3 linked regions of the Homo sapiens genome follow. The protein of the gene in region 1 interacts with the protein of each later gene in a biochemical or structural test. Each region holds a gene or a part of one and is shown in the gene's direction. Other genes may lie near its edges.

Region 1 (7,279 bases):
GGGATTCTTGGTGCTATTTGCATTTGAGAATACATAGTAACACATTTATGCTCCTATGGAATGGAATGTACACCATAAATCTGGAAAACCCTATCCTGGACAGTCTTGATTCTGTTACTCTGCCCCCAAAATGCCAAAGGAAAACATAAACACATCTTGAAAGACTGTCTGAACGGAGCCCAACCAACAGAAGCTGAGTGTCACTGAGTAAGCTGGGCTCACCACCCCCAGGCACGGCTGCTGTGTGAAGTCTGTGCATTCACCACCTGCCATATTTGGGGTGGGCTTACCTCTTTGGAATGTGAATCCTTCTTCACTTTATCACTATTTTTAAATGGGATTTGTGTAGAGGAAGAGAAAGATATCTTTTCTTTACAGCCTGTCTACAAATATCTTTCCCAATAAGGCTGTGTCAACCTGAGTCTAAATTTAATGCCTCCATAAAAGAGAGAAAAATAGTGAAATGGTTATTTTGTCTACACGACACAATATTGCTGATTTAATCCATCTGTTTCTCTGAATTGGGCTGACTTGGGGTAGATACACTGATTGTGACTGTTTAATTTCTTTCTTTCTTTCTTTCTTTCTTTCTTTCTTTCTTTCTTTCTTTCTTTCTTCCTTTCTTTCTTTCTCTCTCTCTCTCTCTCTCTTTCTTTCTTTTGTTTGAGATGAAGTCTCGCTCTGTTGCCCAGGCTGGAGTGCAATGGCGCAATCTCAACTCACTGCAACCTCTGCCTCCCGGGTCCAAGAGATTCTCCTGCCTCAGCCTCCTAAGGGACTACAGGTGCACACCGCCACACCCAGCTAATTTTCATATTTTTGTAGAGATGGGGTTTCACCATATTGGCCATGCTGGTCTCAAACTCCTGACCTCAAGTGATCCTCTGGCCTTGGCCTCCCAAAGTGCTGGGATTATAGGTGTGAGGCACAGCACCCTATTGTACCTGTTTAATTTCTAACTGTTCTACCTACAGTTACCCATGCTGTACTTAAAGGTGTAAGTGAGGCTGGCCATGTGGGACACTCATCTCGGCCATCGATGCTCTTCTTCTACCAACTGGGGAAAACAGAAGCTCTTTGTTTTCAGTTCAGTGGCTCCAGAAATTGCAGCATTTCCTTATTAGTCTGACACTGCTATGATAGAATATTTTTCACATTAAGTGAATGAACATTTATTTACAACCTTTCTCAAATATGGAATACATATTTCCTGTCTCCTCAAAGAGACCACATTAAACTTAAATTAGCATTTTATTGGACATTTCAGTTTATCATTATGAATCGCAGGGACTACAGCAGATGCTGTAGATCGGGATATTCCCTGGAAGCATTGATGACTGTAAGGGCATTGACCCTACCCCACTGACCTTCGGCTACCATGTTTTGTATTTGTTGTGTCAACTTCACATTGCTTTTCTGTGTCCTCTCTTACTCTCCCTTTTTCCTGTTCTCATTGTGCTTCATCAACAACTGCTGCTTTCCTATCTCACCTCTAGTTTTCTGCATCTAATTGGTGAGGTCAGATGCCATTACGTGTTAATACAATATCTAAACTATGAATTAGCAGACATGGAGTAAGAAGGACTCTACAGTGCACAAAATGCATAGCTTTATATAACATCAATTCTGGCTATTTAGTGGTTTAGTTCCCCTTCTTTTCAGTTTCTTGGGTATGGTATGGATAGTGAGATTGTTGGACGATCAATTTCCAAATCAGTGATTTGCATATGTGTGCCACATATAGGTCTAATTCCAGTTTGAGTCACAAATTAGAGGTTTTTAATTAGTTGTTTGGAGTCACAGATGGGTAAAATATTAATGTTGGTGTTCAATTGGCTTTAGAATTTTAATAATTTCCATAGTTTATTTTGGCTTTGTCAATTTAAATTTTAAATTTTATTTTTCTTATGTCAATTCCCGTTGCTGGTGAAAAGAAATTTTCCCACAGTGGGTGGAGAGCTTAACTTGTACTCATAGATGGACCATGATTGCTGGAAGGAATCCAAAGCTCTTATATGTAGACACAGTCTATTGGCAAAGATGAATCACAGAGCTAGAGGATGAAATTAAGAACAAATTTGCAACGAGTCTGTACCACTTTGCTACTCACTAAACTGGATCATTTTGAACTAGGCTTCGATTTTTTCCACATACTTTAGTGTGTTCTCCCAAATTCTTTTTTTTTCTGTTGAATTTTTATGACAACTTGTATTTGAAGTCAGTTGTATAAATGCCTTTATAGTTGTATCTAAATTATTAGTCCACAGGGGCTTTCCTAACTCCTATGTGTTAGAATTGTGCTAGGCACAGTTCTTGTCCCCAAGCATCTTCCAAGCTCATTGATGAGATAAAGACCAATGGATATAAGGGGAAAAAATTAAAACTACACAAAAACATATGTAGCTTAGGCTATAAATGCCAGGGGGATTCAGAAAGCCAGGGAGACGTTGTGTTCTAGAGATATCAGAGAAGGCTTCTCAGAGGGGCTTTAACCTAGGAGGTCTTGATAAATGTGTGGAATTTGGTCATTCTATCTTCCAGGTAGAGAATATAGGACCTTCTGAGCCCCAAAGAGGACATGGGGCACTGATGGCAAGAGACCAGCTTTCTTCTAGCAGAGATTGGGCCTGAGGAAGAGCCCAGAGCTTAATGCAAGCCCCTGAATGGGAGCATGGAGACTCAGACAAGGCCCGTGGAAGGTAGGGGAGATGCTGGAAACTGGTTGAATTCTTCCCCATCTCCATCCAGACTGGACAAAGCCTAGAAGCATTTCCTTCAACAATGAGTTCTTTCCCTTTCCAACCAGAGCACTTGGAACTCCAGCCTCTACCAGGACAAGTGTCAAAGCATGATAGGCTAGGGATGGGGTCCCAGGACCCCTGGTGGAAGCCTAAGGCCCAGAAGTAGCTTCTTTCAAGTGCTCTCAGCTTCTAGGGGGAAAGCTCCAGAGAAACAAAACTGCCCAGGAGGGCAGAAGTTCTGGTTAAGTCAGACCCCAAATTCTGAGTTTCATTTTGCCTATAGTTCTTTGGGGGACCATATCGCTCAAAAGGAAGGTCTGTTTGGGGACGTTTCCTCCCTGGTATGAAAGGAGGCACCGGAGACCAAGAGAAGAGACCAGCTAAGCCCTGGGAAGAAGGCAGTTTGGCTAAGGTGAGAGAGGGCGCTCACCGGGGAAGGTGAGGTGAGGCGGCAAGCGGAGGGCTAGGGGGCCGACTGGGAAATTCTGGCGCTTCTCCCCGGCTCACAGAACTCGCCAGCTGGATCGGCCTCCCCGATCCCTGGCCAGGGCCGCAGCAGTGACCAACCGTCCCTGGCCAAAGCTGCTCTACGACGGCCGGCAGTGCCCACTCCCCGGGGGACTCCCGGACCCCAGCCAGGAAGAGCAGACACCACGTCTGAGCCTGGAGCTAGACAGTCCCCCCACAGCAGGCAGCTTGCACCGTTTAGTCTCGGCTCCCTCCGTCCTCTGTGGCTCTTTCAGTCCCCTTCCCAGGGCCTGCCCCTGCCCCCCACACCTTCACACAGGTCTCCTTCTGTGCAGTAACACACCAGCTCTTTTCCTGGCTGTCGGCTCAGGCCAACTTCGGCCTGTGCTCCAGAGGAAGCCTTCAACGCAGAGCTGGATGGGGGAGGGGTGGAGGGCAGTCGCTGTGAACGTCCAGGTGGGAGTCTGGGGACCAGGTACTGCAGGGAAGGGCTAAAAGATAGGTCGGGGTAACCCTTCAGATCTGGCTCAGCTAGCCTGTCTCCAAGATTTAGGACTCTGAATCTCTGTGGGCTCCTCCCTGTCCCCACTCCCAAACGCCTGACGCGGTGCCCCCTCGCCCTCCGCTGCTCCTTTCTACCGCTTTCCCTCCTCCCTCCCATGTCTTTTCCGTCCTTGGTCTAGGGCTCTCGGCCTGCGCCTCTGCAAACACCCCCTCCCCTCCAACTCCGGCAGAACTCCGAGGGGAGGGGCCGGAGGCCACCCTTCCCGCCTGTGGTCAGAGGGGGGCAGCGCCGCAGCCCCGGGTTTGGGGGGCAGGGGCCATCTCTGCGCCCCGCCCGATCAGGCCACTCGGCGCACTAGGGGTGGAGGGCGGGAAGCGTGACTCCCAGAGAGGGGGGTCCGGCTTGGGCAGGTGCGGGCACTGGCAGGGCCCAGGCGGGCTCCGGGGGCGGGCGGTTCAGGTTACAGCCCAGCGGGGGGCAGGGGGCGGCCCGCGGTTTGGGCGAGTTCGCCAGCCTCGAAAGGGGCCGGGCGCATATAACGGGCGCCGCGGCGGGGAGAAGACGCAGAGCGCTGCTGGGCTGCCGGGTCTCCCGCTTCCCCCTCCTGCTCCAAGGGCCTCCTGCATGAGGGCGCGGTAGAGACCCGGACCCGCGCCGTGCTCCTGCCGTTTCGCTGCGCTCCGCCCGGGCCCGGCTCAGCCAGGCCCCGCGGTGAGCCATGATTCGCCTCGGGGCTCCCCAGACGCTGGTGCTGCTGACGCTGCTCGTCGCCGCTGTCCTTCGGTGTCAGGGCCAGGATGTCCGTAAGTCTTCCCCCGCCCCTGCCTGCCTGCCTGCTTTCCATGCGTCCCTCAGCATCCTTCTCCCCGGCCCGCTCCAGCTCTGGAGCCCGCGGCTCCGGGCTAAAACGGCTCCCGGGGTCGTAGCGCGCCGACTTAGGCACAGGACACGCAGAAGTTCACCAAGAAGAGTTCTGCCAATCAAGGACTCTGTCCCAGGGTCCTCGGTGCCCATCGCAGTTGCAAGTATTTGCAGGTCCCTACGTTGCGCTAGAATACTGAACTTGCAAAGTGTTGGCTCGGAGAAGTTTGCGCACAGATATAAATGGGCTCTTTTCCACCAGCTTTGATAATTAGGCGCACATGCACACAGCTCGCCTCTTCGAAGCACTTCGAGTTCAGCAAAAACAGATCTCAACTCATCGAACTTAGGTGAAGTAGGAAAGAGAGAGCGCGAGCGAGGGAGCAAGCAAACGCCAAAGGGTTGACTTCACAGCCTGTCCAAGGCTTGGTGGCTGGTGGGCTCAAAGCAGAGTTAGACAAAGGGGACTAACACTCTGACACTGGTGGGCTGAAATCCCAGGCCACAAAGAACGGCTTCCGATAGGCCCTCTGAGACCTCAGCGCCTCTTTAGGGTACCCTCCCCCTCCCAGCTGGCCCTGGAGCAAGGTGCAGCCCTAGCGCTCATCTCGACTTCCCTCCGTCCGCCTGCGCCTCTCTTCTGATAAAGGGTACAGAAACTTCCAGTAGGAGAGGCCATCTGAAAGACGATAACATTCCAACCAGACCGTGCTTTTCAAATGCCCCCGAAAATAGCGCCCCCTTCCCCGCGGTCTTACCCCATTCCCCGCCGCCCCGAGGTACTACAATGAGTTACTTTTCTAAATTCTGGAACTCACCGAGCCAGGCTGCGTGGTGTGTGTGTGTGTGCGTGTGTGTGTGTGTATGTGTGTGTCAGGGAAGGGGAGCAGGCTGGTCGATTGCTACGGTTGCTACAACTATTTCAACCGGTATAGTTAGAGATGGCTCTTGTAGTCGGGTCCAAATGCTGTTCGGACTGCACCTTTCTACCCCTCCTTTGGTAAGGTCCACTGTCTGGGATTATATTCAGGACAAACGAAGCCTGGAAAGTGTATTAGGTAGAGAGGATTTTTTTTTCCACGTGTTTGGGCACGTTTCCGACGGCTGGGATTCCAGCCCTGTCTTTGTATGTTACAGATTGTAAATCAATCGCAGAGGGAAACTCTTCGGCGGGGGGAATAAAAGTTCTCTGCCTTCGAGGCTCTGTGGGCCCTCTCCTGCCACCAGGCTGTTTCCAGGGATAGCGTGGAAGGCGGCGGGCTCAGGCGGGCTTTCCGGTCATTAGCGCAGCGGGGGCAGGGCTGGAGCCTGCGGCGCAGCTGCGAGGAGCCGGGAGCAGGAGACTCTGGCCGGGTCACCCGGTAGTGCGCTAAGCTGGAGGCGCGCTCCTGGGCATTTGAGGAATACAGCGTGACTATACGTGGCCTGGACTCAGACTGACTATATTTTTGTACTACATTTACAAGCACACGCCCACAAAGCTGTCTTCTTGACTGACCCCTGCCTTAGTGCGCAATGGAATTAGCTGGGTGGCTTTAAAATAATTCTCAAATTCTCCATCCGGTATTAGGGTCGCTTGCTTAATTAGGCGGTAGAGCTCTCTCATCGCCGCATCTTTCCTGGGAGGGAGTGATTCCACAGCTTCTCCGGCCCAAACCTTCCAGTCGCTCCTCCTCCCAGAGGGAGTGTGATTCTGCATCCGAGAGGCTGATTTTGCGCCCTGGAGCATCCCACCTTTTATAACTTCCCCCGCCTGGGGTCAGCGGACCCAAAGGTGTGACGTGGGGAAATGCGCAGTCTGCGTGGACGTCAGGAATGTCAGACACCTAGAGCTCGGCCACACCCCTCCTCTCCATCTTTCCACGAGTTTGAGAAACTTACTGGCGGCGGCGTCTTTGACCCTCATCTGCATTTCAGAGCCCTCGCCTCCGAAAGTGCCCCTGGCTCAGGGGAGAGATCTCAATCCTCCTTTGTGAGGCTTGTTTGCATTGGGAGATTGGCAGCGATGGCTTCCAGATGGGGCTGAAACGCTGCCCGTATTTATTTAAACTGGTTCCTCGCGGAGACCTGTGAATCGGGCTCTGTGTGCGCTCGAGAAAAGCCCCATTCATGAGAGACGAGGTCCAGTGGGTTCTCTCGTACTCCCAGACCCCCTCTCCCACAATGCCCCCCTGTGCCCGCCCGCCGCCACCTCTCGGCTCCAGCCCTGCGCAGAGCGGCGGTGAAGCAAAACAGTTCCCCGAAAGAGGTAGCTTTTTAATTGGCTTGCCACAAAGAATCACTTATACGGCCCTGCGGTAATGAGGGGAACCGGATCAGGCGCGCCGGGATGCTATCGGCAGCCGTTTTGGAGCAGCAATTATGGTGGTGCTGGGCTCCTCCGTCCACACCTAGGGGATCCGGTTACGGCGCTGGCTCCTTTCTGGGGCAGTCATTTAATCCCACTTTTCACTCTCCCGGTGTCTGTGAGCGAGCCGTGTCCAGAGCCGCAGCCACAGAGTCACTCAGCGGCTCTTACACCCAGCGCAGCCTGGCCCCGCCCCTGCGCCGGCGCTTCCCGGGCCGCCCTTCCCCGGGAAATCTGATCCGCACGGGGAGTGGCCCCTCTCCTAGCATTTCCCCCTCTCCTCCCTGGGTCCTCATGGGCGAGGGTGGGCTCTCCTGTAGTCTGGGCTGGAGCGCATTAACCGATGCCCCCTCTCCC
Region 2 (6,930 bases), on another chromosome or scaffold:
AATGCCTGATAATCTGAAGTGGAACAGTTTCATCTCAAAACCATCCGCCCCCCACCAACCAACCCCGTGGAAAAATTATCATCCATGGAACCAGTTCCTGGTGCCAAAAAGGTTGGGGACAGCTGCTTTGAGGCCACCATAATCGAAATAAAACCGTGTTGCTATGCATTACATTGGCTAAGTAAAAGTTTACCGGGGAGCTTAAATGGTATAGAGGATAGAACAGGACTGGATACTCCTTTAAAAGGTAAAATAAAGTAAAAAAAGACCAACAACAAAAATATGAAAACTTCAGGGGCAGATTCATACCTAGGTAACAACGGAACAGAGACAGAGCCTATATAAACTAAGAGTTTTATCTGTGTAAGCACAAGCCAAATCCCATCAGGTAACTATGCCATCCTTGAGAAACTCTTTTAGGGCCATCAGCAGCATCCTGAAGCCTGACAATGCCACCCAGGTATCAGTGTTAGAGGCAGCTTATTTCCCTAACAATGCCAGCGCATTCTGCACAAAGTCAGAAATGTGACTGTGCAGCATTCCCAGGGAAAATTACTTTTGAAATTGAGTTTTCAATCTTTTTGTTAGGGATTGTTTTTAAACAACCATCAGGCCAGAAAATGCTTCCATTTTTTATCAGGGGAATGCAGTAGGCATATTAAAGTTGGATTTTAACGAAAAGATAATGAAAGAAGAATGAAAGATTAGCAGAATTAGCTTAACCTCTAACACTGAGCACCTGGACTGCACATTAGAATCACCTGGAGAGCTTTTAAAAATTCTAATGCCCTGGCCCCAGCCCAGACCAATTATATTAAAATCTCTGGGGTGGGACCCAGGCATGAGTATTTTTAAAGCTCTCCAGGTAGTTCCAACGTGCAGCCCAGACAGGAATCCACTGCTCTACACGGAGTTCATCTAAATTTTGAATATCAAATACTTCCCACTAAAGTAGGATAAAATCAGGCGCAGTGGCTCATGCCTATAATCCCCACATTTGGGGAGGCCCAGGCGGGAGGATCACGTGAGGTGAGGAGTTTGAAATCAGCCTGGGCAAATAATGAGACTACCTCTCTACAAAAAGTAAAAAATGAGCCAGTCATAGTGGTGTGTACCTGTAGACCCAGCTACTCAGGAGGGTGAGGTGGGAGGATCTCTTGAACATAGGAGTTTGAGGCCGCAGTGAGCTTTGATTGTGCCACTACACTCCAGCCTGGATGACAGAGTGAGAATAAGTCTCTAATAATAGTAATTAATAACAATATAATAAGATTAAATTAAATTAAAAATTAACAAATAATGAGGCCGGGCCTCACGCCTGTAATCCCAGCACTTTGGGAGGCCAAGGCAGGTGGATCACCTGAGGTCAGGAGTTGGAGACCAGCCTTGCCAACATAGTGAAACCCCATCTCTACTAAAAATACAAAATTAGCCAGTTGTGGTGGCACGTGCCTGTAATCCCAGCTACTCAGGAGGAGGCTGAGGCACGAGAATTGCTTGAACCTGGGAGGCAGAGGTAGGAGTGAGCCGAGATAGCGCCATTGCACCCCAGCCTGGGAGACAAGAGCAAAACTCCATCTCAAATAAAATAAAATAAAATAAAATATTTAAAAAAATAATAAAGCAGGATTAACCAGGCATCCTAGGAGTACGATTACCCTAAAATATCACCCAACTGAATACAAAACTCTGTCATTTTAACAATTTGTCTTTTTAAGTCAAATATACCTAGATTTGACTCTCTTCAGATATTTCCAAAGCAGAGGCAATTACCTCTTAAATTCAGATATTTTTCTTTAATATACTTATGGTGAGCATGAACTACAAACTAGCTAAGAATGAGAGTCTAAACCCCACTCTTCCACTCTCCTTGGTTGGCCTTACCAAAAAGAAAAAAATAGTAAAGACAGAGTAACTTCTCTTAAATGTTTCAAAACAAAATAATTAAGATGAATCTCAGTAAACAACCATGAAATTCAGTGAGGTATTTCCTTTATTTTTTAATGGTTACAGACTCAGGGTCTGTCATGGAAATAGCTGCATAGTTTTGACTCTGCCAAATCACTCACTGAAATTACATCACAGGAGGGCTGCCAGTGCCCTGTGGGGGCTCTGAATAGCATCTACCCCTTTGGCCATTTGGGACCTGCCTGCTGAGCTGTGAAGTGGCAGGTTTTTTCCAGCGTACAGACTCTTCCTAATTATATAGCATCATGACAATTTGTCCAGCCTAATTAGGGGAGGTTATCCAACCCTGATTGAGGACACTCAATAAACAATAATGGAAAAGACAGCTTTAATTGTCCTGAGGCTTGAAATTTCTCCCATGGAAAATATCAGGGGCAGTGGCTAGATTACTGGATTTCTAAGAAAAGGGTAATTCTCTATACCAGGGAAGGGAGTAAATCTTGAAAGCAGCCATGAAAATAAACATCAAAAACCTCCCAGCCCTCAAATGTTATTTGGTCTCTTTCCCTCCAGAAGACATTCAGGTAGTAAAGGGAATGAAATCAACACTCCTTAGTTGCCTGATACAAATACTAAGTCATTCCAATCAGGAAGATAGTTGTAATTAAGACTACTACACTAGTTGACTTCCAGGTGATGGTGGTGTATTTGTTTCTCAGTATAAAATGGCATGGGAATACTTTTCAACAATAAAAAGAAAGGAAGTACTGTTCTATAATGCCTCATGGATGAACCTCAAAAACATTCTGTGCAGTGAAGGAAGCCGCACAATGTATAATCCCATCTATAAGAAACGACCACTAAGAAAAATCTATAGAGACAGGAAATAGGTTAGTGATTGCCTAGGACTAGGAGTGGGAGAAGAGACTGACTGACAATGGCGAGGAGATCATTTTGGGGAGGATGAACCTGTTCTGAAATTGGCTTGTGGTGATGGTTGTACAGCTCTGAAAATTTACTAAACATCATTGAACTGTACACTCAAAACGGATGGATTTTATGGCATGTAAATTGTAACTAAATAAGGCTATTTGAAAAAGTTTATATTGTACCAGAAAGGTTAGCGTCTGGGCCTGGGTCTGGTTCTTCCGCTGCCATGCAGGTCGCCTGTCACTAACACTCCTCAAGAATTCTGCTCCTTCTCCATTTCCATTTGTAAAACGTTAGCAGGATGGTGCGGGGAGAAGGAGAACACATTATCAAATCTGAGATTCTGTGCAGTCACAAGACACCAAGTCTGGGAATTTCGAAAGGCAATCAGGCATAAATTCTTCCTGAGGTGAGAAAGAAGCAAAGGTACCGGCTGCTGGGGTCAGGGCTGTCTCACACGCGTGGCTCTAGGCAGGAGCACAAATTGAACCACTGGGGAAAGTAGGACTCCAGCAGAAACGAAGGCGCAAGGCCGAATCCCTAAGGTCCAACGAGCTAGCAGTCAGTTGACAGGGTTTCTAACAAAAACGCGGCATGCGTTTACCAAACCTAGGGTGGTTTTATTTCAGAAGTAGGAACTCTTTCCACGAGAGCACCAAGTTGAGAAGTTCGGTTCTCAGGCCGCGTGGACCTGACAGCTCTCAGAAGCTCCAGGCCTCGCTGGGTGGGGCGGGTAGCGGCCGCCGCTGCCTCAGCAGCCCTGGTCCCGGCAGAGCAGGGCTGGCGAGGCCGCTGCTGCCGCCGTCGGGGCCGCCGGCCCTCCACACTCGTTGAGACGCCGGCACGGGGACCTTCGTGCCCCTCTAGGGACTGGCGCCGCGTCCAGGTGGCCGAGCCTGCGCTGCTGGAGGAGGCGCCTCCGCGCCGGCCTCACCCCGGGGCCGGCAGGGGGCGAAGGCGGAGCTGGAAGTCGCCGCCGGGCCCCGGGGGACCGGCTCCCGCGCTTCCTCCCGCGCCCCCCGCACAGTGCTCATGCGCACGGCCCAGCCTTTATAGCGGCCGCGGGGGCCTTGCCTTCCGCACTCGGGCGCAGCCGGGTGGATCTCGAGCAGGTGCGGAGCCCCGGGCGGCGGGCGCGGGTGCGAGGGATCCCTGACGCCTCTGTCCCTGTTTCTTTGTCGCTCCCAGCCTGTCTGTCGTCGTTTTGGCGCCCCCGCCTCCCCGCGGTGCGGGGTTGCACACCGATCCTGGGCTTCGCTCGATTTGCCGCCGAGGCGCCTCCCAGACCTAGAGGGGCGCTGGCCTGGAGCAGCGGGTCGTCTGTGTCCTCTCTCCTCTGCGCCGCGCCCGGGGATCCGAAGGGTGCGGGGCTCTGAGGAGGTGACGCGCGGGGCCTCCCGCACCCTGGCCTTGCCCGCATTCTCCCTCTCTCCCAGGTGTGAGCAGCCTATCAGTCACCATGTCCGCAGCCTGGATCCCGGCTCTCGGCCTCGGTGGGTGCGCGCCCCTCACGACCCCGGCCCCTTGCTCCGCTGGGTGGAGGCTGGAGCCAGCCCTCACGCTTCTCTCTTCGCAGGTGTGTGTCTGCTGCTGCTGCCGGGGCCCGCGGGCAGCGAGGGAGCCGGTGAGTGGGGGAGCTGGGGTGCGTCCAGGCGGTCGCAGGGGCTGAGCACCAGCGGGTACAAGCGGGACTCAGATCCAGCCCCTTGGGCTTCAGCCCTACCGCCTGAGGAGGAAGGCGCGAAGGTTGAGCCGCCGCGTGGCGCGCCCGCGTTAACCCCTGCAGCCGATCTGCTCCTGCTCACCTGTTTCTCCCATGGTAGGGGGCCCCTGGGGTCCAGTGGGGGGACGTTCTCCAAGAGCACTAGGAAGAAGGCCTCCTCCAGGCCCACCCACAGCCCCAGACCCCGGGCCCGCTGAGCGCCGGCAGCAGGAGGTCGAGGAAGGAGGACTCCTTGAGCCTCACCGAGGAGCGCACCAGTCCTGGGCTCTGCTGCGTTTGGGGGTGGAGGAGAAGCCGCCCAGACCCGACTTCAGGTTGCCGTAGCCGAGAGAGAGGGAGGCGAACGTCGCTGTCCCACCTTGTTTGACTCGCTAGCTATGTTTCTAGGTGTAACCCCTATAATCAGAAGCACTCGCGGTCTCACTCTACACGCTAGAGAGTTTAAAAAGTTTGTACCACGTGTAGAGGTCCGGGTATGGGTGTGTGGTTTGGTGTATTTTCCAGTGTAAAAGGCAACGCTTTCCTAAGAGCTACCGTTTGTTTTCCTTGAAAGTAGGAATGAGGGTTAAGTATCCCTCATGGCTGTATTTCTCCCGCTCTACTTAACAAAAGTCAGTGTTCGCAACTAAAGGCGGTCGGTCTTGGCACCGGATTCCGATGCCGCCCCCATCTCAGCGGAAAATGGGAGGAAGGATTAAGGCTGTTTGATGATAGGTATGAGGCTGTTTAGGGGTAAGGATTTTAACCTCTCAGCTCTCTAGACTGCTTCAGAGCTAAGAAATGGGCATTGCGCCTGCATCCTTCCTTCTCTTCCATGGAATGTAAGGTACCTGTCACCACAAAGGGCACAGAGGAGGGTGCTTGTCACAGGCAAGGTACTCAGTTGGACAGTATGGCCAGAAAGTATTCCTCTGCCTTGGAAAAAAAAGGTTTTTAAAATTAATATATGTTTTAAAAAGGTTTGGATAACTACAACTTCCCATGTTTGAAAAATAGCATTTAATAACATTAATCTCAATTTAGTATCGACAGTAAATTCACAAATTAACATGTTGTATTATGTTATCTTGTTACTTGTTGCCAAGAGCTTGTCTCTTCCTAGCATCATTTATAGTAAAAACTGATTCTTTGTTAGGTTGACAGTGTAAAACTTGAGAATATTAACAGTGCTTTCTAAAAATGCATCCGCTGCTTGATAAATCTCACTGGACAGATCTGGAGCAGAAATAATCAGGTTCAATTAAGATAAAAATGCTGTATTCTGAAGGGATTCACTTTTCTGTTTTCTGTCCTTCGGGAGTTGTAGAATGTTGTTTGGGCAAATTAACCCCACGGCTTTAATTTTCTCATCTATAAAATGAACAATCAAGTTAGATAACTTTCTGTGAATCTAAGCATCTTTTTGTTGGCTTCCTTAATGTGTGAGTTTAAGGATCTGCATTTGTAGGCTAACTAGGATAAATGGTCCTATGAAGGAAAGGATGGCTTTGATTTGTGCACATGTCTATGAAAATGTTCCACAAAGGCTCAATCCAGATTTACTATCTTTACCTCAAGCAACTGTGTACATAGCGTCATCAAAGTTGAGATTTAAAAATTTTTTTTTTTCTTCTGGAGACAAGATCTTATTCTGTAACCCAGGATGGAGTGCAGTGATGCAATCATAGCTCATTGCAAGCTTGAACTCCCGGGCTCAAGCAATCCTCCCACCTCAGCCTCTCCAGTGGCGGAGAGTACAGGCATGCACCACCACGTGTGGCCATTTAAAAAAAATTTTTTTTTTTTAGAAGAGATGAGGTCTTGCTATGTTGTCCAGACTGGTCTTGACCTCCTGGACTCAAGCAAATCCTCTTGTCTTGGCCTGCTAAAGTGCTGGGATTATAGGCATGAGTCACCACGCCCAGCCAAGATTTTTTATATTTCTATAATTAATATTAAATGACTTTTATTTTCTAGTTCAGATATAGTTCCAATTATGTATTTCCAACCTGGTTAAGAACTGAGAAGCCAGGCACAGTGGCACACCTGTAATCCCAGCTACTAGGGAGTTGGAGGTGGATCACTTGAGCTCGGGAATTTGAGCCTAGCTTGGGCAACTTGGCGAGTCCCCATTTCAAAAACAAAAACGAAATAAAAACCCAGAACTTTCACATTAGAGTTTTATAGTGGCTGGGGACTATATTAAATTGGAAAACAACCTTGTGGCTTGCCAAAATCTGGAATGGTATGGAAGGGTATATAAGTCAATAGTCATAACTAGAAGTGTAGAAATTAGGGAAGTAAAACTTAAATCTCACACTGTAGTCTCCCCACCACTATGCCCCAAGAAGTCCTAAGAATGCTTACAATATTATCTCCTTTTTCTTCAG
Region 3 (7,022 bases), on another chromosome or scaffold:
GACAAAGGACTTGCAAGCCATCTGCGGCATCTCCTGTGATGAGCTGTCCAGCATGGTCCTGGAACTCAGGGGCCTGCGCACCATTGTGACCACGCTGCAGGACAGCATCCGCAAAGTGGTCAGTGGCCTCTGCACCCAGCCCGTTAGCATGAACCCTGGAAGGTTTATCGCAGATGGTCCCAAATGACTGAAAATGCGGGGGGACACTAATGATATTCTCTCCCATTTAGACTGAAGAGAACAAAGAGTTGGCCAATGAGCTGAGGCGGCCTCCCCTATGCTATCACAACGGAGTTCAGTACAGAAATAACGAGGAATGGACTGTTGATAGCTGCACTGAGTGTCACTGTCAGGTAAGGGACCTTCACCAGCCAGAATAAGAATCGACGGCTTTTGTTTGAACCTACATCTTTGGGGAAATACCCTAATCGCCACAGAGATTCTTTTTATGTTCCATGGCCTGATAACAAAGTGTTTTTTTTTTCTTTAAGATGCAATTATGGCATCTATAAGTTCTTCTTTAAACTCTCAGATGGTTTATCAAAGTATTAATTATACCCCAGGCTAAGTATCTAAGAGAATGAATCTACTAAGACATCTGAATAATTTACCTACCTTAGTTCAAAGACTAAGTGTTGAATGTCAGGTAAATAAAACCTGGTTGGAACATTCATTTTTTTTTCCCAACCCTGATTTATATTCAGCTTTGGCATAGGTTCTTTTAGTACAGTAGCAATTGTTTTTCAAATCACTTAGTCTGACACTGTTAGGATGTTACTGTCTGCTTTGCTCAGATGGCACTGCCAGGTGTGTGATTCACTCTAGCATCCCCGCATGCCAGTGGCCAGTGAGTTTGGAGGTTCACCTGGCTTATCTATTAATAGCAAAGTATTTGAATTTGCTTAAATACAAATCACAGATGACTGGCTGTGGGAACCAACTTCATTAAATTCCCTTTCTTTTCCAATATAAAGACAGATCACAGATCTATAGATGAGGAAAAAGTGCTTATAGATCTTCCTTCCTCCCCCCAAACACATAATATAAAAATGTAAAAGTCCTGGCTGAATTTTCTGAGTTTGATTTCAGACATAGATTTGACCCATGATGTTTGTTGGTTCCTCTGCTATAAATTCTTTGTACTGTAACTTCCACCCTTGACTAAGTAGCAATTAAAAAGAACTTTCCAAGGAATGGAGTGACACGTAAACTAGCACTAGAACTGTCTCTACGATAGTGGTGGCTGCAAATATGACAGAGACAGATCTATGAAAATCATTCCACTAGAGCATTGACAGCCCTGACCATGTTTTGGCTTGTAAAGGAAATGTTACAGGATGTAGACTTCTGTATGCAACATGCTCAGCAGCCTGTTCCCCTCTCACTCTCTTGCCCTGCAGAACTCAGTTACCATCTGCAAAAAGGTGTCCTGCCCCATCATGCCCTGCTCCAATGCCACAGTTCCTGATGGAGAATGCTGTCCTCGCTGTTGGCGTAAGTTTCTCAAATGGCATAGCTATTCTTCAGTGACTAGGTCAGTTCTACATACATCCTAGACAGCCGAGCACAACACTGGAACCCCACCCCCATCTCCATCATGCTTCCATTCAGTTTCTTGCTGCAGCAGCTGGTTAACTGACAGCTTATCTGCTGTACAGAGCCAAAACTCCATTATGAGTACATCGTAATTACCCATCTGGATTGCAGTAATGGCAGTGAAGATCTTGGTATAGCTCATTAATTCTGATTTTTTGCTTTGAGGAAAAGAGATGAAGACGTGGCAGCAACAGCTCTAAGTTGACTGCTTTTAGAATTTGACCTTAGTGGCACAGAGTTAAGAAAAATCTGCTCACCAGAGATATTGACAGGCTTACTGTGTAAGCATTGGCCTGATCGGGCCTGGAAGTTTTGCCCCTTTCATCTGTAGGGATAAGAGGGCCTAAGAGAATAGCAGCAATCTGAGCTCTAGAGCACCAAAAGAAATAAGGCACGATATCGTTCCATGGCACGTTATCCCTGGCTTTTGTTACCAGTAAAATGAATGACTTTGCTGAGACAATACTTAGTGTAGCAGGTACAAGTTATAAAAGTGATTCATTACAACTAAGATAAGGAAGAAAACAGGAAAACAGCACTTGCCCTTCACACACACAGAAACACACATGCACACACACACAAACACACCCTTGTCACAGCTCAGAATAACCAATTCCATCCAGGGATCATATTAGCGATATTGGCACTGTAATGGTCGTTTTTACATTTATTTTCTGTTCCGCATTCACTTAACATGTGCGTTAAAAGGAACAAAGCTAGCTGGAGGTAGCAAAGTTTTGAACTTGAATCAGGGATTGCTAAGAAAACTTACAACTAATGACCACAGAAAGTAAGTTCTTTGTCTTCTGTCTGATACAGCTAGATGTGATTGTAGCCGTGGTGCCTGGGCAGATGGTAAACAAACATGCTGTCCTCTTATGACAATATGTGCAGAGAAGGCCCCAAACGCTGGGGTGAGAGGAACAACAAACTGACTAACTCACGGCCGAGTTGGAGCCAGAACCAACAACAGCTCGGCTGCCTTCACACTCATCTGTCAAACACATGGTGTATGGCTCCCCTGACAGAAATGACTCCTATAAGCTTCCTCATACTCGCGCATTCTTGGAAGTCTGAGACTGGAAATGCCTACCCAGATATGTTAAGTCAGTAAAGGAAAACTCATTTGCAATGCTGAGAGGAGAAAGAAAATCAATGAATAGGAGAGCATACACTGTGGGAAGGCTCAGCTGTACTGAGCCAGGCAAAGCATCCGATTACCCCACTGCTGTACACATCATGACCTGGGATAAACCCCTGGGCCGTTGGCCTAAGAAATATGTTGCTTTTCATCCTGTATAACTGCAACTTTGTGCCGGCTCATATTATGTTCTAGAGAGCTCATGTACACCATGGTGACCATAGTTAATAATACTGGATTGTATGCTTAAAATTTGCTAAGAGAGTAGATCTTAAGTCATCACCAAAAAAAGTAACTGTAAGATGATGGAGATGTGTTAATTAGCTTGACGGTGGTAATCACAATATATGTGTATATCAAAACATCACATTATACACCTTAAATGTATATAATATTTGTCAATTATACCTCAGTAAAGCCAAAAAGAAATAAATATATTGCTTTTCACCCTCTGGCAAGTGGAGGGCCCTGAACAGAGCCCTCTAAAGAACAGCTTGTCCTAATCATCACGTACCTGATGAACCTCTGTTTCCCCTGCAGCCAGCGACTCTGCGGACGATGGCTGGTCTCCATGGTCCGAGTGGACCTCCTGTTCTACGAGCTGTGGCAATGGAATTCAGCAGCGCGGCCGCTCCTGCGATAGCCTCAACAACCGATGTGAGGGCTCCTCGGTCCAGACACGGACCTGCCACATTCAGGAGTGTGACAAGAGATGTAAGCATCTTAGCCTCTCAGGGACGTGGAGAACTGACCTGTCCTTGTTGTCGTCACCAAGGGCAGCTCCACAGCATGTATATTAAGAACACGGGTTCTAGGATCTCTGGATCCCAATCCCACTGCTTAGCTGTGCACCCTTGAACACAACTTACCCTCTCTGAGGCTCTTTCCTCATTTGCAACTTGGAGATAATAATAGTTCTTGATAAGTTTATCTTGAGCATTTTATTTAGATACTGCATGTAAAGCAGTTAGCACTGAGTTTTGGTTTATGGTAAGCACCCTGTAAATGTTAGGATATTAACAGCAACCCATAAAAACAGCGAACTTATCCGTTCTCTGGTAGAAAACATTCCATGTTGACATTTGGGCATGTGGCCAGGAGCCAATTTCTACCGTACACTGGGTTTAGTTGCCATTGACCATTTCCTGGAAATACTTCTGCGTGCTCCTGATGGGAGCCTCTATTTGGCTGTCTCTAAGCCAAAACCATTTGTGACCATCAACTCTGTACTTTAGTTAAACAGGATGGTGGCTGGAGCCACTGGTCCCCGTGGTCATCTTGTTCTGTGACATGTGGTGATGGTGTGATCACAAGGATCCGGCTCTGCAACTCTCCCAGCCCCCAGATGAACGGGAAACCCTGTGAAGGCGAAGCGCGGGAGACCAAAGCCTGCAAGAAAGACGCCTGCCCCAGTAAGTGTGAGGTCCGCTGCAAGGGTGAGCATGGGCAGCAGCTCTGCCCAGCTGGTTGCCTGGCATCTGCAGCCTGCAGTTCAGTGGGTCATAGAGCAGGAAGGTTACCTACTAGAGAAACAAACAGAAGCAAAGTCCTGCAGGCTCAGCAACTTCTTTTAATGAAAAACAAACTCACCCTCTTCCCCAGCATTCTTTCCATGTGTCAGAGAAGCAGAGGTTTCTTGAACGGGCTTAGGAGAGTCTATGACAAGGGAGGGATTTGAAAGTTGATCTTAATTGTTGCCTGTGGTTCATCTTCTTACAGTCAATGGAGGCTGGGGTCCTTGGTCACCATGGGACATCTGTTCTGTCACCTGTGGAGGAGGGGTACAGAAACGTAGTCGTCTCTGCAACAACCCCACACCCCAGTTTGGAGGCAAGGACTGCGTTGGTGATGTAACAGAAAACCAGATCTGCAACAAGCAGGACTGTCCAATTGGTGAGCCACGCAGCCCAGGATGAAACGACCCAGGAGCTTTGCTCTTTTACTGAATGCTGCAGTCAGCATTCGAGGAGATTCCAGCTTGGTTAGTCCTGAGCGATTTGATTGCTCTAAGATGCAGGTGGACAACATAATCCCAACAAGTTATCGGTTCCCTATACCCTATAATATCTTACACTGTGTTAAGTGCCCAGCATGGCAGTATGGCAGCTTAGACCAACCATTTACTGTGACTGTCTCTCTCTCCTTGTCTCAGATGGATGCCTGTCCAATCCCTGCTTTGCCGGCGTGAAGTGTACTAGCTACCCTGATGGCAGCTGGAAATGTGGTGCTTGTCCCCCTGGTTACAGTGGAAATGGCATCCAGTGCACAGATGTTGATGAGGTGAGGAACTGATGGGGCTCCGAGTTTCTGGATCTAGGAAAGCAGCTAACCTGTGCAGTCGCTTCCTTATGGCAGTGACTTCTAAACATGATGCACGCTCTTATTTCCTCCATAGTGCAAAGAAGTGCCTGATGCCTGCTTCAACCACAATGGAGAGCACCGGTGTGAGAACACGGACCCCGGCTACAACTGCCTGCCCTGCCCCCCACGCTTCACCGGCTCACAGCCCTTCGGCCAGGGTGTCGAACATGCCACGGCCAACAAACAGGTACAGTCAACTAGACGAGTAAACCAGAGGACAGGAGAGCTGTCCTTGACCAAAATAACTGGGAGCGGGAGGAATGTAATTTCATACCCTTCACCAAAAAAAAAAGGGCGAGGAGATGAATGTACGGTCTAGTTTTAGAAACGTGATTAGAAAATCCATGGTAAATCCTGCAGGGGAAAAACAGTCTTCCATATTTAAAAATGCTGCTCTGGAATAAGTTGTGAGCAGATGGACTTGTAAACGCCTAGGTGCTGAGCAAATTCAAGAAAAATAAACATAAAGCAAAGTTTGCTTATAGCCTCAGGGAGAATGGGGAGGGACAGAGGTAACCCACACTCTTCCAAATGGAGCCTCTGTCTACTCAGAGATGACAGGGATCTGGATTCTTGTTTCCATGATATCTGAGGATTCTCAAAAGCTCTGTGTAACAGCAGCATGGTGTACCCTCAGGTGTGCAAGCCCCGTAACCCCTGCACGGATGGGACCCACGACTGCAACAAGAACGCCAAGTGCAACTACCTGGGCCACTATAGCGACCCCATGTACCGCTGCGAGTGCAAGCCTGGCTACGCTGGCAATGGCATCATCTGCGGGGAGGACACAGACCTGGATGGCTGGCCCAATGAGAACCTGGTGTGCGTGGCCAATGCGACTTACCACTGCAAAAAGGTAGAGCCAGGTCCTTTGTGTGCCTCCAGAAAGAGGGCCCATCACCTTATCAAAACACAGGCTAAGGAATTTTAAATACTTAAAGTTTGGACATGAAACTGAAAGATTAAATCTCCCAAAGGGAGAGGGGCACTAATTCCTATTAAAATTAAATCACTTGGTGCCAAAAACATGAACAGGGCTAGCTCTTTTTGGGCAACTGTGTTCCATAGTCAACTCTTCTGTCCAAAAAAAAGTTCAGTACTCTATCCAAATACCAGCAAAGCATGACTTGTGTTCACAACATCTATAAAGCCTAGAGCATTTACACAAATTCTGTATGTATATCCCCCAAGAAAAGTTTTATTTTCTTGTCTTCCCATAAAAAAAATATGCTGTTACTGAGCCAAATTCTGTTCTTTTTCTATTTGGAATTCCAGGTACACTCCCTCGTGCATGAGCTCAGCATGAGGAAGGCAACTGAAGCAGTGATATATATCTTCTCTTTCCTAGGATAATTGCCCCAACCTTCCCAACTCAGGGCAGGAAGACTATGACAAGGATGGAATTGGTGATGCCTGTGATGATGACGATGACAATGATAAAATTCCAGATGACAGGGTAAAAACAGTTTTCTATCCCTTTTTCATCTTTTCAGTTCAGCAACAGCCTGAAACACTTTGGGATTCAAGGAAATTACATGGCTATAGCAAAAAATATACCAAATCAATACACAGGATAATTAGAAATTATTCATTGTGTTCCAGTAGTTTAAGGATGTAGATGTTGCCAAGAGAATTTTTAAATGAGGGTTTTGTTTTTCATCAGAACTGTTTTTCTCTGTACTTGAGAAATTATAATGCATAAACAAATGCCACTTTGTTCCCTAGATTCATTTCAAATGTCACATCGAAATTACAGTAAAATTGACTTTGGGCACACTATGAACTGAGATGATGGGATTATATTCTACATCTCACTAACTTCTAACCCACAGGGATCCATTTTTTTAACTATGTCCTTTTAACTTTTGTAGTGATCGTTTTACACTGAGTGATCAATTAGCCTATCCACTAGGTAGAAAGTATT

Evidence for each region. The genes of interacting proteins can lie anywhere in the genome.
Region 2: the proteins of COL2A1 (region 1) and COCH interact in a biophysical measurement, tested with the Homo sapiens proteins (one study listed by IntAct).
Region 3: the proteins of COL2A1 (region 1) and THBS1 form a complex in vitro, tested with the Homo sapiens proteins (one study listed by BioGRID).

What each region holds. Positions count from the first base shown.
Region 1 is NC_000012.12:48,001,475-48,008,753, reverse strand, and holds the start of COL2A1 (collagen alpha-1(II) chain isoform 1 precursor), read left to right. Parts: upstream 1-4,277; 5' UTR 4,278-4,432; coding exon 4,433-4,517; intron 4,518-7,200; exon of another isoform or gene 7,201-7,279. UniProt on the Homo sapiens protein: Type II collagen is specific for cartilaginous tissues. It is essential for the normal embryonic development of the skeleton, for linear growth and for the ability of cartilage to resist compressive forces.
Region 2 is NC_000014.9:30,870,642-30,877,571, forward strand, and holds the start of COCH (cochlin isoform b precursor), read left to right. Parts: upstream 1-3,917; 5' UTR 3,918-3,950; exon of another isoform or gene 3,951-4,274; 5' UTR 4,275-4,297; coding exon 4,298-4,331; intron 4,332-4,414; coding exon 4,415-4,462; coding exon of another isoform or gene 4,463-4,657; intron 4,658-5,537; exon of another isoform or gene 5,538-5,911; intron 5,912-6,930. UniProt on the Homo sapiens protein: Plays a role in the control of cell shape and motility in the trabecular meshwork.
Region 3 is NC_000015.10:39,584,070-39,591,091, forward strand, and holds part of THBS1 (thrombospondin-1 precursor), read left to right. Parts: coding exon 1-118; intron 119-230; coding exon 231-353; intron 354-1,400; coding exon 1,401-1,494; intron 1,495-2,056; exon of another isoform or gene 2,057-3,184; intron 3,185-3,277; coding exon 3,278-3,451; intron 3,452-3,972; coding exon 3,973-4,149; intron 4,150-4,456; coding exon 4,457-4,630; intron 4,631-4,889; coding exon 4,890-5,017; intron 5,018-5,132; coding exon 5,133-5,285; intron 5,286-5,735; coding exon 5,736-5,954; intron 5,955-6,446; coding exon 6,447-6,554; intron 6,555-7,022. UniProt on the Homo sapiens protein: Adhesive glycoprotein that mediates cell-to-cell and cell-to-matrix interactions.